Linked DNA regions of Homo sapiens: region 1 is linked to region 2. Evidence: fine-mapped expression QTL. Tissue or cell type: whole blood. Region 2 holds a variant in brackets; the other region holds the start of a gene. All regions are shown on one strand. Distances are between the middles of the regions.

Region 1 (8,109 bases), 57 kb after region 2:
TTATGAAGGTATAAAACCACAGCAAACTCTGACAGTGATATGGTTTGGCTGTGTCCCCACCCCAATCTCATCTTGAATTATAGCTCCCACGAGTCCCACATGTTGTGGAAGGGACCTGATAGGAGGTAATTGAATCATGGGGATAGGTCTTTCCCATGCTGTTCTTGTGATAGTGAATAAGTATCACAAGATCTGATGGTTTTATAAGGGGGAGTTTCCATGCACAGGCTCTCTCTTTGCCTGCTGCCATCCATGTAAGATGTGACTTGCTCCTCCTTGCCTTCTGCCATGATTGTGAGGCTTCCCCAGCCATGTGGAACTGTGAGTCCATTAAATCTCTTTCCTGTATAAATTACCCGGTCTCAGGTATGTCTTTATTAGCAGTGTGAGAACAAACTAATACAGACAGGAATAAGGGCTATTACTTATTTCATGCCTTTCATGTGCCAGGCAGACTGCTGATACCCTGATACACTGTAACCAAGTACCTCCACTTTTCTAAGTCATAGTTTAATTTTTTTAATTATTTTCTCTTTTCCCTGTGCCCCACTTCCTACTTAGACCTTCAGAAATGCAAATGTAACCATTCACCTTTCCTGACCAGAAATTCCCTACAGGGCAAGTATATCTAACTATGTGCTCCAAGACAACCTTAACTTTGATCTCTCCTGGAGAGTTGACAGTCGATTTGCAGACCAAAGCATGTCCCCACAGAACTCTCACCTCCAGGGGGTGGCCTCTGAACTCACACCTACTAGGAGGGCATGGTGAGAGTATGCCCACTTGGCCACTTATATAACTTATATTTCTGCCCAGGAAGGTGTCAACTCAACTGTCTGGTAGATAAAGCACCAGGGAAGCGGGGGACCCCCTGCTCTGGCTCACTTCCCACCCTACTTTATAAAAGAGGCCCACTTTCTGCTCCAAAAGTGAAGCAGCACATTCTGGGTGTGGATAAAGGCAGGACGTTTTGTGCCCCCTTCTCCAAGCTAGCTTAGGAATTCACTTTTTTTTTGTACCAGACCTCACTCTTGTTAATTGGACTCTGCATGCAGCGGGCAACTAACCTACTTTTTGGTGACAACAGGTCATCTAATCTTCAAAATAACCCTGTGAATCACTGCTTCACTGATAAGGGAGCTGAATCTCAGAGGGTTTAAAAACCAGCCCAGATCATAAATCCAATGTCAGAGACAGGACTCAAACTCCAATGCATCCTCTCTTAACCATTACAAACACTGCCTCCCTGGTTACCAGCTACTTCACAAACTTTAGCAGTTAACCTGTAGAGAAGGGGGACATAAATGTGTGTGGGCTACAACCAGCAAGGCACCAAACAAGAATCTAATACTGGGGAGGGAAATACACCATTAGTGCTACCTCATAGGAGGAACAGGCTCTGAAGCACCAGGTTACGGTGAATATCAGTAACCTGGGTATCAGTAAGCCTGGGTGTATAAATGTTAGCATGGACCTAGTACTCATCGGTAATTGTGGCAGGTTGTTTGGAGACCATGTTGATCTCTGACCTCAAGGAACTTAGAAATGAATCTATTTGTTTATCCTCAAAGCCACAGAGTCCCTCTACAAAGTGACCTGAACACTCTGACATTTCAGAGTGGTCAGCAGAAAAACAGGAAAGACAGAAGCTGACAATTAAAATAATATAGTTAAAATTGTTAGATTTTAAAAAATCATTGGTGCACATTTGCTCAAAACAGCATTTTGAAATCTGTTAGTCGTAAGTTATCAAAGAAACAGGGCAACAATGATTTTATATAGTGATAACAATGGTTACCTCTGGAGACAGAAACTGGGGGCCCAGGATAGGAAGGAGACTTACTCTCCACTGCACACACACTCTACACCTTTGGAATTTTATACCATGTGCACTTCAATATCTATTCAAACACTTAACAAATATTTTCCTTACAAAATCACCAACCTCTGATTTTTATGGAATTGACAGTGGTTGGAGATTAGCAAAGTATTATTAAAGGGGTAAACTGTGATATCTGACATGGAAAAGTTGTAAAACACTGATTAATATCTGACAAACAATAATATCTGTGTTAACAAAGGAAATACAATAAATATAGAAATAAAAATAAGCACTGCAGTTGGGAACTCTGTCTCTGAAAGCTGAATACAGAAGGCATAGATGCTGCATCTTGAGTGTCCAGCTCTTCTGTGCTGGACATCAGGATGTATACACTTAACCTGGGAGGCTTAGAGTTGGGAAGAGAAGAGTTAGATCGAGGGCAAGGCTTCTGACTCCTCTCTGGGGAAAGAAGAATGGATACGTGTAGAGGTGCTATGTGCAAAAACAGCACCTCCACCTCTGCTACCCTCCCTGCAACACAACACACACACACACACACACACACGTACACACACACTCACTAAGGTCCTGCAAAGCCCGTGAAGAGACATACCACCTCTCCTTGCCAAAGGGTGTTCGGCCTTAAAATGCCATAAACAAAAACATATACAGAAATATTTTCGCTACAAGGACCCAGATGTCTAAGCAGTTTAACAGAAAGCTTGGCACCCCTGGGTGGTCATGCATGCCAACCAGATTTCTCATGCTTTAAGAAGTCTATTTTTTAAAACAGGATTGACCAAACTAATGGGGTCTGCTCTGGATGGTGAAAATGTTTACTTTCATTTCCCCCCAACCCCCTCGCCTCCCCAGTTCCCCCTGAATATATTCTCAAGAAAGAGTATGTCTTTGGGTGGTTGCAAGTAGGAAGTTTCAAGGCTTTTCTCCCTAACGAATACCGAACACTGAGCACACAGGAGGGGAACAGAAACTTGGAAGCAGAGCAAAGGACCAAGTTATCCTCCTGTCTAACCCTGCTCAACAGGATCACCCTGAAGTGTGGCTCTGAAGATATTTGTGAACTCTGGCACAGCTGTTTGGCAGAATTAATACTAAAACCACAGGTCTTGCAAAAACAAAGAATCAAAAAAAAAAAAAAAAAGTGAAAACCAAACAGCAGGAGGAAACCCTTAGGAAAGCTCGGTGTCTTTCAGACATGAGATTTTCTTTCTCCCACTCTACTTGACTGGCCTGACCTGGGGTCCAGTCCCACTTCCTGGTGGCTGCGGAAATCCGCAGTGAGGCTCAGTGTGGATTTTGGCTTCAGAGGATTTGGGAAATTCCACCTTTCAATCTGAAATCTGGGGAAAGTCCCAGAAAACAACGGATTACTATATTTCTCTCATGAACCAGACTGAAGCAAGGAGTCAGGTCTAGGACCAAGGACCTCGGCACTCCAGGGAGCCCAGGGCCCCTCAGAAAGGTCTCGCTTGGCCACCGAGAGCGTGGGGCCGTAGCAGTTGGCAAGCGGGGGAGGGGGGTCACGCACAACTGCTCTGGAGCCACACTGCATAAATGGCATTCGTTTTTGTTTTCTGATTAGAAAAACGTTGAAAAGAATACCAAAGTACAGAGAAAACACACCCCCATCTCCAATGTTTCCTCATTTATGTAAATATTCTCATATTTTATAAAACAGGGAGGTGCTGTCTATAATTTTTGCAGGCTTTCCTTAGCATATGGTGAGCGTGTGCCAGGTGAGCAGGAGCAGCGGGGGATGACTTCCGATCCGACACCCCCAAAATCTCCTGGACAAAGCTGCTGTCTTTGCGGGATAAACAGAAAAGGGCCAGTCCCCACCTCACCCCCAGCCCGCCGCCCCGCAAGTACCTGGGGCTGGGGAGTCAGTGAACTCTCTTCAGCTGTTCGGCTCTCCCGGCTCAGAGCGAGGGGAATCGAGGAGACTGGGCGCAGGATGGGGGTGGACACCCGGCCGCTGCTCCTCCGCGCGGGTAAGTGTGAGCCCCGGGGTGCGGGGAACCGAGCCAGGGACCAGTGACCGCGAGCCGCCGATCCTCCCGCGCTCCCGCGCGCGCGGCCTGCCTTCCCACTGGCTGGCAGAGCACGTCCTCTCGCGCCCGGGGCCTTTGTAAAGAGCGCAGCGGTGGCGCGGAGGTTTTCAGGCTCCGCCCGCTCCACTCGCGCTCCCGCCCCTTCCTTCCTCTCGAGGTGACCCGGCAGCTGGCGCCTTTCTCACCAGGTACCCAGCCCCCTGGCCGCCTCTCTCAGTTCTCTGGCAGGGTTTGGTGCGCGGTACACCGACCCGGACCGCGCCTTCCCAAACGAGTGGCCTCTCCTCCAGCCCGATTGGCGAGCTAGAGAAAAGAAGGGAACTGGATCACTTCAGCATTAAGGAGGACTTTTCCCCAAAATGAGTGTTGCCCCAGGGCGTGGGCAGGCGGGGAGCTGAACTAATCTTTCGGTGACTCCAAGGATACCAAGCAAGCCAGTGCGTGGCATGCACGAGCTCCTCTAATCATCGCAGTCCCCCTTACACATGAGTAAACCGAGGCTCAGAGAATGGTGGAGTGTGGCGAGCAGAAGTGGAATTTTTTTTTTCTTTTTTTCTTTTTTTGAGACGAGTCTCACCGTGTCGCCCATGCTGGAGTGCAGTGGCGCCATCTCGGCTCACTGCAACCTCTGCCTCCCGCAGAGGCGGGATTTGAACTTGCTCCAGGTTGCCCTCGCCTTACACCCAGCAGAGCAGTCCAGTCGCTTTCTCTCCTGCCGCTTGCATCGTAATGGACATCCAGAGTCCACAAGTAAAAGCTGGTACATGATGAAATGGGAAACACCTCTCAGGAGTCCTTTATAGCTTAGAAGAAGGTAATGCTACCTTTCTGCCTCAGTGAAAAGATTTGGAATCACCTAAGTGTGAAGAACCTAAGGAGAGTAGGTGTCAAGAGAGGATAGACCCGGGTGCCGTGGCTCAAACCTGTAATCCCAGCACTTTGGGAGGCCGAGGTGGGCGGATCACGAGGCCAGGAGTTTGAGACCAGCCTGGCCAACATGACGAAATTCCATCTCTACTAAAAATACAAAAGTTAGTTGGGCTTGGTGGTGGGTGCCTGTAATCCCAACTACTCGGGAGGCTGAGGCAGGAGAATCACTTGAATCCGGGAGGCAGAGGTTGCAGTGAGGCCGGGATGGCGCCATTGCACGCCAGTCTGGGCAACAGAGTGAGACTCTGTTTAAAGAAAAAGAGAGAGAGAGGATAGACACTGTAGAGACCAGCAATCCCTGTTGGGAACCAGTGTCATGGAAGACTTTTTCCACAGACTGGGGTTGGGGCCACGGGAGATGGTTTCAGGATGATTCAAGCCCATTTCATTTATTGTGCACTTTATTTCTATTATTATTGCATTGTAATATATAATGAGATAATTATACAACTCACCATAATGTCGAATCAGTGGAAGTCCTGAGCTTGTTTTCATGCAACTAGACGGACACATTTGGGGGTGATGGGAGACAGTGACAGATCATCAGGCATTAGATTCTCATAAGAAGCGGGCAACCTAGATCCCTCCCATGTGCAGGGTTCCTGCTCCTATAAGAATCTAATGCCCCAGTGATCTGACAGGAAACAGAGCTCAGGCAGTAACACAGGTGACGGTTAGCAGCTGTAAATACAGATGAAGCTTCGCTTGCTGGCCCTGAGCACACCTCCTGCTTTGCCGCTGGGTTCCTAACAGTCCATGGACCACTGCCAGTCCATGGCCCAGAGGTTGGGGACCCTTGCCATAGAAGGAGAAAGAAGACTGAGGATAGATAGAGGAAGGAGGACAAAACTTGGCTTGGCTGAGATCACAGCGGCCTACTTCTTCGCATGGGAAACCAAATTCTGATGATGGAAATGAGTGGAAGCCCCTTGTCTGTCTTCTGTCCTTGAGTTCAGGAGAGTTGCTTGTTTGTGGATCAGTTTCACTGGCAATAAAATGACACTGATGTCCACCTGATAAAGAGGTGCTATGGGTGCGGTTAAGTTTTGAACTGTGTCAGAGCTAGGTATAATCAAGTACAGTGACTGTGGGGAAAGAAGGGTACATTTACAAGTGAGGCAGATTCCCGTAAGGGCTGCAATTTTGTTAATCATCAACATTTATTATTTCTTCTCTAGAAGTGACAGTCAGGGTACCTTCTCTCAGCTGATGAACATGAGAGCAGGTGGAAGATAAGACGTGCTATCTGATTATGTCAGTGAACTCATACAGTAGAACAGTATTATCAGAATTGGAGTTTCCAATCTCTAATTTGAAAACTGACAAAAGGCCCAGAAAATTTCTAAAAGCTTGAATAAGGCCAGAGCCCCCAAAAAAGTGACTATTTATTTCTGTACTTTCAATTTATTAAGTTTTCTGAAAATCACCAGGGGACATTTGCAAAAGAAGCAATTTTAAGTCACTCATATCTAAATTAGGCAAAGTAATTTGTAATATGGGCTTTATTATTGTTTCAGTTTGTATAAAACCATTAAAAATGATTATTTTTAATGAAGAGATTATTTTAGTTATTATTTAAAACATGAACATCATTCTTTGATAACGAAAATGTCTTTACTGTTAAAGAAACACAATAGGAATTTTAATTATGCAATGAAAGGTACTAGACATTTCAGGAAGGGGTTTATACAAATATCCTCATCTCAGGCTATTATTTCTCTTAAAACAAGCAAATTACTAAAGTCTGAAAGTACTTTGGCCAAAGTTACATCAGACTGAGGAAATGTAAGGCTTCCACTGTGTGCCACCGTTACAAATATGCTAATGAGAACATAGCAGCTGGAAATCACCTTTGAGGCCCTCTTATTGCGGTTTTTCTTTTTGAAAAGAAAAACCAAAAAACAAAAATATTTTTGTTTCAATGTGATCGTGTCATTTTGATAAATTCATTATCTGATCCTGACATAGCCTTAAAGTGTGAAACTTTCTCTTGCACATAGAACTGCTCATGGGCTGCCAACATCTTTTAAATTAGACAGATGCAGTTAAACTCTCCTGTGAATTCAACAGGATTTTAAACTTGGTTAACCTCACTTGCTACAACCAAATGCCCTGAGTGGTGTTGGGGTTATAGGAAGTAACATAAATGCTTTCAGGAAAAAATTACAAGAAACCCTTCAGGGAAATGACTATACTAAAAGTTGGGCTAGGATTGTATTCAAAATAGACGAAAACAGTAGGCATGTGTTATTGATACAGAAAGGAGGGATTTACTGTTTTAATTACCAATGACCCATCATTTAATTTGAAAATAACATAAAATGCCCATAATCCATTATATTTCGATCCAGCTTTGAACAATTTGAAATTTCTAAATTGTATTAACGTTTAAAAAAAAAGTAAAAATTTATCTTGGCTCTCCTATTCAATTGATGGCATGCCATCACTTCCTGTTATCATCATCCCTCATCCCCATGACATGGGTCAATATAATTTCTAATTAAGTTACTTGGTTGTTTGGAAATACAAAGTTTTTCCGTGGCAAGAATCTTAAGAGTTTTAGATATTTTTGCTAGCCCATAATTAAGATGATGTACATTAAACGCCTACTGTATGTTATTTAACATAAAAAATAAAAGCAGCTAATTTGTGGTAATACAATCACACCATGTAAAAAAAAAGAAGAGGTGCATGTTTGTGTTACTTGCTGATAAATGAATTATATGACCTCGCTTTCTGTCCAAGGCGTTCTAAGCACCTGAGACCCACACTTGTCTAACTCTCCCCTGTCCGGCCCTGACGTTTACATTATGTGCAGTTCAGCTCAAGTGTGTCTCACCGCCTCATGGTGGATGCTCTCTGCTAACAAGTGAAAACATTTAGAATCACCTGAGATAGCTGACCTAAATCGTTTTCCACTAGTTCCTAAATGAGGGACAGGCGGCAGCCCAAATCTCTTCCTCTTCCCTGTTCTTGAAGTCAAGTGACCACAATTAAAATTAACAACTTAAAGCCGAGCCCAGTGGCTCACACCTGCAATCCTAGCACTTTGAGAGGCTAAGGCAGGCAGGCAGATCACTTGAGGCCAGGAGTTTGAGACCAGCCTGGCCAAACTGGTGAAACCCTGTCTCTACTAAAAATGCAAAAATTAGCCATAAGTGGTGGCATGCACCTGTAGTCCCAGCTACTCAGAAAGCTGAGACATGAGAATCGCTTGAACGTGGGAGGTGGAGGTTGCAGTGAGCAGAGATCATGCCACTGCACTCCAGTCTGGGCAACAGAGTA
Region 2 (8,109 bases):
ACAGGTGTGAGCCACCATGCCTGGCCCCAAACGACTTTTTATGTTAATTTCTGGACTGGGGTTCCAAGACCCTAAGGTTAATGTGAATTCCAACTCTTTTAACTAGAAAGAAGACAGGCCTTTTTTTCCAACTCAGATCACACCCATAGTAATAAACTTTCCCCCAAAAGCTATTGAAAAAAAAATTAAGTAGTAACAAATTTCTGTTTTCATCTCCCAGTAGACTAGGTGGCTTTTATCCAGAGTGAGATCTTCTAAGGGTTCTGACTTTATGTATACTTCTCAGGCTCCTCCCTTTATGTGGGTCCAAGGCTTTGTCTCTTGTCCCAGGGTGGATGTTAAAACGTGTGCCAGTTATGATCTATCCTCTTTGCTCTGATTTTTTATTCTAAAACTGGACTCTGCAGACACCCCTTCTCGTTCATTGGCTGATTCTATGTTAGGATCTCCCAATACAGGGTGCTGCAGGGACACTGCAAGGGTGGAAGAAGTGGCATCCTTTTTCCTCTGTTCTGTTTATATAGTGGCAAGTGGATCAGCAGGAAGGAATCCTGGCAGTGTTTATCACCGTGGCCGTAGCCCTCCTGCTTCAGTGGCTAGTGCTTCCTAGCCTACACAGGGAGTTCATGGGTAGGCAACTTCTATTATGCTCTCCCTTACCGTAGTGGCAGGCAGCATGTTTCTATGGCATCCATAACTCTTATCAGAAACTTGAATATCTAGCTTGTAGGGCCTTCCTCTAACTTTCTAAATTCTTTCCTTGTTCACTTTTCTTCAGTTCCAGTGGTGGTTGCTACTCCCTGCAGGAGCTACATCTGTTTGACTTACATTTTCCTTCTAGCATTAACCACCACTGACCTACCTACTGATTCCCATATTAAATTTCCCTTGTTCGAATTACTAGTGTGGTTTCCAACTAGGCAAGAGAGATCTGGAACAAACTCTGCCTAGAGGAAGGACTCCATATTAATCGTGTAACTGTTCCTATTTATCCCTCATCCCTCTCTTTGTGAAATGTGTATGTTGGGTGATCAAAGAAGGAAGCAAATTACTTAGTGTGCATTGTACTCAGTGTTACTAACTAATGAAGCTCATCTCACATACATCCAAAGGCCAGAAAAAATGAGTTGCTGGTGACTGAGCCAATAGTTAAATAACTTTCCCTTTTATCTTTAAGAACATCTTTTTGTGCCTTTTTTCTTGGAAAATTACTCAAATGATCTACTTAACTATTAAGTTATGCAAATATAAAGTAAAAGAGCATCACGAGAAATAAATTTGAGAGAAGTGATTTTAAAGAGCCAAAATACTCTGCGTGATAGTGTAAAAAGTTGTTTGCATTATATAAAGTGTTAGTTGTCTTGGACTTTTTTTGGACAAATGTTTGTTCATTAACTATTAATTTAAGCTGTGATGTGTCTGCAAAATGTTATCTATTCTTATGGAAATGTGCTCTTGTTCAAGCCATTGTTGAGTACATGGGAGCTGAAACTAGACTTGGTGCACCAAAATTCTCACTTATAATGGAAGGAAATATGTACAAATGAATTAGGCAATGTCGAGGCTGGTTCAATTTAAACCTGAACTGGCTTATTGGTCTTTCATATGGTATTATTTAAGACTGAATAAATAAGACTTTAGGAACAATAATGATACTAGCTTGTCGTATTAAGAAGAAATTATTCCATTTGGGTTCCCAGGACAATACACTCCTAATTGGTAGGGACTGAGGTCTCCCTTTAAGTCAGAGGATATTCTCACTTATAATCATCTGGGAAAGAGGCAAATCATGGGACAGACAAGGCCTGAGAGTTGGGGAATTTTTCCTCTACCTATGCCACATTTTCTTGGAGCCTGATTTCAAGTAGTGGTGTGAAGTGTGCCTGAGGACTGTTTAAGAGACAGAAATTTTAAAAGACTAGCGTTTTGTATTGGATGACAGGAATGTAGCTACAAAGGAAAGTATAATATTGATGAAAATTTCCTTCGGTCTGTGGATAATAACACCTACTATTTATATTTATGGTATTTTAGATAATTATAGTATAGCCTATTTAGTACATTATAGAAATTATAACATAACTATATTATACTAAGTACTTGATAGTGCTTAGTAATTTATCCTAACAACAAAGGCAAATTTTGTTTAGTGCTTAATCATTTATCCTAACAACGAAGGCAAAATTTATCTCATTATCTCCATTTTATAGTAGTCATATCTAGTACTCTGTATAAATTTTGGTAATCGAAACTACGCTCAGTGAGTTAAAAGTACGACTTTGTGTCCATATTTGGAACAATGTCGTAATGGAAAACACAGAATTCTTCCCTTTGCAGGGACCACATAACCTCCACACCACACATAACCTCCACACCAAACATAATAGTAGCAAATGATCTCAAAATGACAAAAAGTGATTAGCAGTCAATAGAGAAGAAGTTCTGAGCAGAGATTCAGATATGGAACCACATAATCCAGAAGACAATTAGGGGTACACGTTGCATCCTGACGGACTTCGGAGCACCTACGAGAAAAGATCATTCCCTTCAACTTCAGAATAAAATACTTGAGAGAAGAAAATGTTGTGGGTTTTTTTTTTTTTTTTTTTTTTTTTTTTTGAGACGGAGTCTCGCTCTGTCGCCCAGGCCGGACTGCGGACCGCAGTGGCGCAATCTCGGCTCACTGCAAGCTCTGCTTCCCGGGTTCACGCCATTCTCCTGCCTCAGCCTCCCAAGTAGCTGGGACTACAGGCGCCTGCCACCGCGCCCGGCTAATTTTTTGTATTTTTAGTAGAGACGGGGTTTCACCTTGTTAGCCAGGATGGTCTCGATCTCCTGACCTCGTGATCCACCCGCCTCGGCCTCCCAAAGTGCTGGGATTACAGGCGTGAGCCACCGCGCCCGGCCGGGGTTTTTTTTAACTTGTATTTTAGGTTCAGGAATACATGTGCAGGTTCGTTATATGGATAAACTCATATCACAGGGATTTGTTGTGCAGATTATTTCGTCACCCAGGTATTAAGCCTAGTACCCAAGAGAATTTTGAAAAGGATGGGGAAGAAGGTGAGAAGTTCTGCTACCTGTAAGCAGGTGGGATGTCTCTAGCAAGCTGACAGTAATCACTGTAGATAGTCTTTCTTTTTTGAGACAAGGTCTGGCTTGTCACCCAGGCTGGAGGGCAGTGGTTAGATCTCGGCTCATTGCAGCCTTGACTTTCTGAGCTCAAGCAATTCTCCCACCTCAGCCTCCTGAGTAGCTGAGAATACAGGCACATGCCGCCACACCTATTTTTTGTAGAGACAGGCTCTTGCCATGTTGCCAAGGCTGGTCTCGAACTCCTGGACTCAAGCCATCTGCCCACCTCAGCCTCCGAAAATTCTGGGATTACAGGCGTAAGCCACTGTGCTTGGTCCCACTGTAGATAATCTAAGTGTTTGTGTATCTTACTGACAAGTTAAATATTCTGCGTAGCCAACTGTCATATAAATGAACTTTTTGAAATGATGAGGTCTTGCTATGTTCCCCAGGCTGAACGCAAACTCCTGGGCTCAAACCATCCTCCTACCTCCACCTTCTGAGTAGCTGGGACTACAGTTACGTGCCACCACACCCAGCTCTAAATGAACTCTCTAGCAATGATGAATTAAACTTATAAATCTTATCAGAATACATGTGACTATGGTCGTTACTGATTTTATACCCATGTCCAAATGTAAGAGTCGAGGAAGCAGTACTGAAGCATGGCAGAAGGCACAAGTCTGTCAGGAGGCCTGAGATTTCTTCATATTATACTTTTAATTCATTGTATGACCTTGAGCAAATCATTTAATTCCTCAAAGACTACTCTTTCTCAACCATAAAATGAAGTTTATCTGCCTCTCAAACATCCATTCCAGTTACGGGTTTTTTCCCTGCTAATTCTGTTTAACTAAAAGCAGATCATCACTTAACTGAATGTTTAAAAAGTCTTAAAACTTACCATGAAGATTCTTGATGTCAAATTTGGTGAAAAATTGCACAATGATAAATTCCAATAACCTCTAAGATTAGCTTGGTAATTTATTTAATACATTTGTAGAAAAAAAATTAAGTAGCTCCCCTGAATTTATTATAATCTACCCATATTCAAGTTATCATTACTTTCGGAGACAGCCAAATGCCTAGGCAGACAAAAAGGGGTCCCCAGAAAAATCTCCCACCTGCCCCACAAGTGTTCACATCAGATGCTTTTGTGCAGATGAGGGAACCTGCCCAGTGCCTTGTGTGAACATGCCCATATGCGCACTGGGGGAATGGGGTGGAACCAGGGCAGGGGAAGGAGGCTGGCCTCTTCAGTTCCTAT[G/C]TGGTGGCTTGGGATTCAATCTGTGAGGTGCCTTTTCAGTCCCTGTGCAGTAGCCTGGGATTCAGTCTATGAGGTGGGGGCCTGATAACAGGACTCTATCTCGCTTTGGTGAGTTTTTTCTTTTTCCTTTTGCCCAATAAAATCCTGCTCTACTCACCCTTCAATGTGTCCACGTGTCTAAGTTTTCCTTGTCATGTGACAAGAACCTGGTTTTAGCTGAACTGCGGGGCAAAATTCTGCATTTCTAAATGCTTGCATTTGTGATCAAACTCTAATTGAACTGGTTATCAACCTTTTCTACTGAAGGGTCAGATTTAAACATTTTTTTCTGATTACAGAAGTATTAAATAATAATTGTCAAAATTGAGAAAATAGAGAAGAGAAATAAAGCTCCCAACATTCACAGTCTTGAAATAATTACTGTTAGCATTTTGATATTTACCATCCAGCCTTTATTTTCAAGAAACACGTGTAAGAAAGAATGTAAGAATGTATATGTTTTGTTTTAAACATCATTTGGAACATACATATAATTTTCTATCCTGATTTTTCACACATTATTCAGCAAGCATTTTTCCATATTGTTTTAAAAAATATATTTATTATGTCTATATAACAAGAATACACCAGCAAATTTAATCATCCTTCAATTTTTGAGCATTTAGTTTGTTTCTGGCTCTTGGTATTTCCAAATAATTTCTCAGAATGAGTTTCATTATCTGCAGCAGTTTAGAATAGTACCATTTCATTGTATCCTTGCAAATACTGAATATTTCTAACTGTAAAGCTTTGTTAACTTGACAAGTGAATCAATACAAATGACTAAAACATGCATTTTAATTTGCATTATTTTGCTTAGTGAAGTTTTTAAATGTCTTATTCATTTGTATTGCTTCTGAGGATCATTCATATCCTTAACTGAGAGAACAGATTTACTATAAAAAAATTATTTTTAAGTGAGATTCAGTTTTAATAACGGTTTATAGAATGTCTATAGGAAGTGCTGTCAAGTCTATAGCTGCATTTTTTTAATCAAACTTTTTATATTGAGACAATTGTGTCACATGCAGTTTTAAGAAATAATATACAGATGACCGTGTATATCTTTAATCTAGTTTCCCCCAGTGGTGACATGTTACAAAACTATTGCAATATCACAACCAGAATACTGACATTAATATAGACAAGATGCAGGATTTCCATTCCCTGACCCATGGCAATCAATTATTCTGTTGTCCACTTACATAAATTTATCAATTCTGAGATGTTACATAATGGAATTACACAGTATATAAGCATTTGAGATTGGCTTTTTCTTTAACCATAATTTCCTACAGATTCATTTCAGGGTGTGTTCATCAATACTGTGTTCCTATTTGTTACTAAATATTCCATAGGATAGATGTACCAGTTTCTGTAAACATTTATAGTTGAATTTTAATGATTATTTCATTAATACATTTGTCTAATTTCAGGGGTTGGAAGGAGAAAAGAAAATGCTTTCACTAGGAAGTCATTCGGTCATCCCAACATTCACTGAAAGCAAACCATTGGGACAAATGTTATCCTATGCTTCTGATTACAAAACAACTAAAACCCAAATAAAATAAACATTAGTAAGTAGCAGTGCTAAGATTGAAACCAGATACGTATTTAAAGAAGCAAGAAAATGAGTTCAGAGAACATTTTATCATCAATAAAAACTTTCTAAAATGTAACAATTTTTCTAGGTTTAATTAAACAGGCTAAAAACTTGATGTGTCCAGTCCATGAGAGCATCCTCCTATCCACTGGACGAGGTGTCTACTAAACCACATCTTATATCTATTGTGAGGCCAACTGTCTTGAGGCCAAACAAGACGCGAATTATATGGTAGCACTTGAGAGGGCTGCGGACACATTAGAGCAGCTTTCTCTTCCCATCTACAGCAGTTCTGGGCAGCATGCTTGGAATGGCAACGCTGACGTCCCCGAAAAACCCCAGCCCTCTTGCCAATTTCCTCTGAACCCCAACTACCCAACCCAAAATTATGTGAAGATCTGATTTTCAAACAAAACGAGGACAATAATGCACCATTATTACGTTTCCCTAAAACATTAACAGTATGGAAATTAAGACACAAACCAGAGACCGGAAAAAAATCTTGGTGCGTTCAAAGTAACCTCAATCAGTTCCCGAGTCTATTTTCCGCTTATGGTGCAGTATTAACAAAAACTAAGCACACCGTGCAGAGAAACGCCCCTTCGCACTTATGACTTCCGGCCTGGGACTCTGGCTCCTCACACGCCTTTGATACAAAGTTCGAAGGCTGAGCCTTAGCCATGCCACGCCCAGCGTGCTCCGGACGAGGATGCCCGAAACTGCAATGAGAGAGGGAAATTTCCTAGTCAGGTCAAGGTCCAACAAAACAAACGTCCGCACGCAGGAATTGAACCGTCTCGCAGGCAGAGGCGGCTGAACCAGGAGCGAGCGGAAGTGACGCACAGGCCGGTCGCCAGAGAAGGCGGGGCACCGAGGTAGCGCGCCCAATTGGGGCGCGGGAGAGGCCGGGGGTGTGGCAGCGTTGGCGGCGAGCAGGGGCCTGGGCGCGCTGGGGGCGGGGCCAGGGTGCTCGGCTCGCGGGGACTGGCCTCCTTCGGCAGCTGGAGGCGGTCACTCACGCTGGGCTAGGAGCTGAGGCGAGAAGGGCCATGCGGACGGCGAGGGAGTCCAGAGCCTTGAGCCCGGTGCTCCTCCCTCGCGCAGCGGTGGCTCTGCGGCCGCTGGAGTAAACACTGCCTTTGTTCCCTAGCGCCTCGTCTTTCGTCGCCCCGTGCCCTCACGCCGCCGGGCTCTGGCCGGCCCGCCCTCGGTCCTTGAACCCCATTTCGGCTCGTGCCGTGCGGATGCAGCTGCCGGGCCTGGGTTTGGGCATTGAGCGGGAGGAGGAGGAGGAGCGGCGGCGCCTGGGCGGCATGCGATGGGGAACTGCTGCTGGACGCAGTGCTTCGGACTGCTTCGCAAGGAAGCGGGGCGGCTGCAGCGAGTAGGCGGCGGCGGAGGGTAAGCCCGCTGGGGGAGGGGCCCGGCCCCCGTGGCTCCTCCTCTTCGGCCCCCGGCGGGGAATCCCTTTCACCGTCCCCCGGCGGCTGGAGGTGGCGGTCGAGAGCCCTGCTACACTCACTGCTTAGCAGACGTCAGACTGGTGGTCGTCTTGGAGGCCCAGTCTGGGGTCCGGTCTTGGGGCCTCCTCGGAAAGAGGTAGAAGAGGGGGCGGGGTGTCCCTCCTGCCAGGGCGCCCTGTCACGCGGGGAAGGAGTCACGGGAGACATCATCTCCAGGAAACAAGGGGTAGCTTCGCGCTAATGGGCTGTAGGACCGGCTCCACGGCAACCTGGACACACCCTGCGCTGAGCTTAGGTTTAACGCCAAAGCTAGTATCCCTGTATCTGACCCTCTCTTTAGCCCTGGCAGAGCAGGTGGGATCTGGCTCCGGAGTTAATGCCTCAGATTGATTTTAAGTAGAAGTCATTTGGATGCTGGAGTAAAATAAGGTTCCAGATACTGATGAACTCTGGTAGCTACAAAGACTTGCTGAATTGCAGAGTTCCCAATGGGCATTCAGATTCTTGGTGCTCATAACTACAGGGACAATGTGTAATTTTTTCGTATTAAGTTTTTGAAATTTCGAGAGGAATTCCTTGCCCTGATTGCTACTCAAACGTCCTGTAACATTAGGTAAATTGCAGTCCTTCTGAACTTCACTTCTCTTGAGTAAACCTGGGAT

Evidence for each region. PIP is the estimated chance that this variant, and not a neighbour inherited with it, causes the effect.
Region 1: it holds the start of TIFA, and the variant in region 2 is fine-mapped to the expression of TIFA in whole blood (INTERVAL, PIP 0.98).

What each region holds. Positions count from the first base shown.
Region 1 is chr4:112,281,928-112,290,036 of GRCh38, forward strand. It overlaps TIFA (TRAF interacting protein with forkhead associated domain), which reads right to left and starts at 3,977. Exons shown (of 2, transcript NM_052864.3): 1 at 3,713-3,977. RefSeq lists enhancers at 2,750-2,929, 2,960-3,079, 5,589-5,708 and a silencer at 3,720-4,029.
Region 2 is chr4:112,224,790-112,232,898 of GRCh38, forward strand. It overlaps AP1AR (adaptor related protein complex 1 associated regulatory protein), which reads left to right and starts at 6,998. Exons shown (of 10, transcript NM_018569.6): 1 at 6,998-7,385. The coding sequence starts at 7,303. It overlaps AP1AR-DT (AP1AR divergent transcript), which reads right to left and starts at 7,361. Exons shown (of 1, transcript NR_186684.1): 1 at 4,772-7,361. RefSeq lists enhancers at 6,771-7,718, 7,743-7,792 and silencers at 6,823-7,102, 7,263-7,532. The variant G/C (reference allele first, on the strand shown) is at 4,343.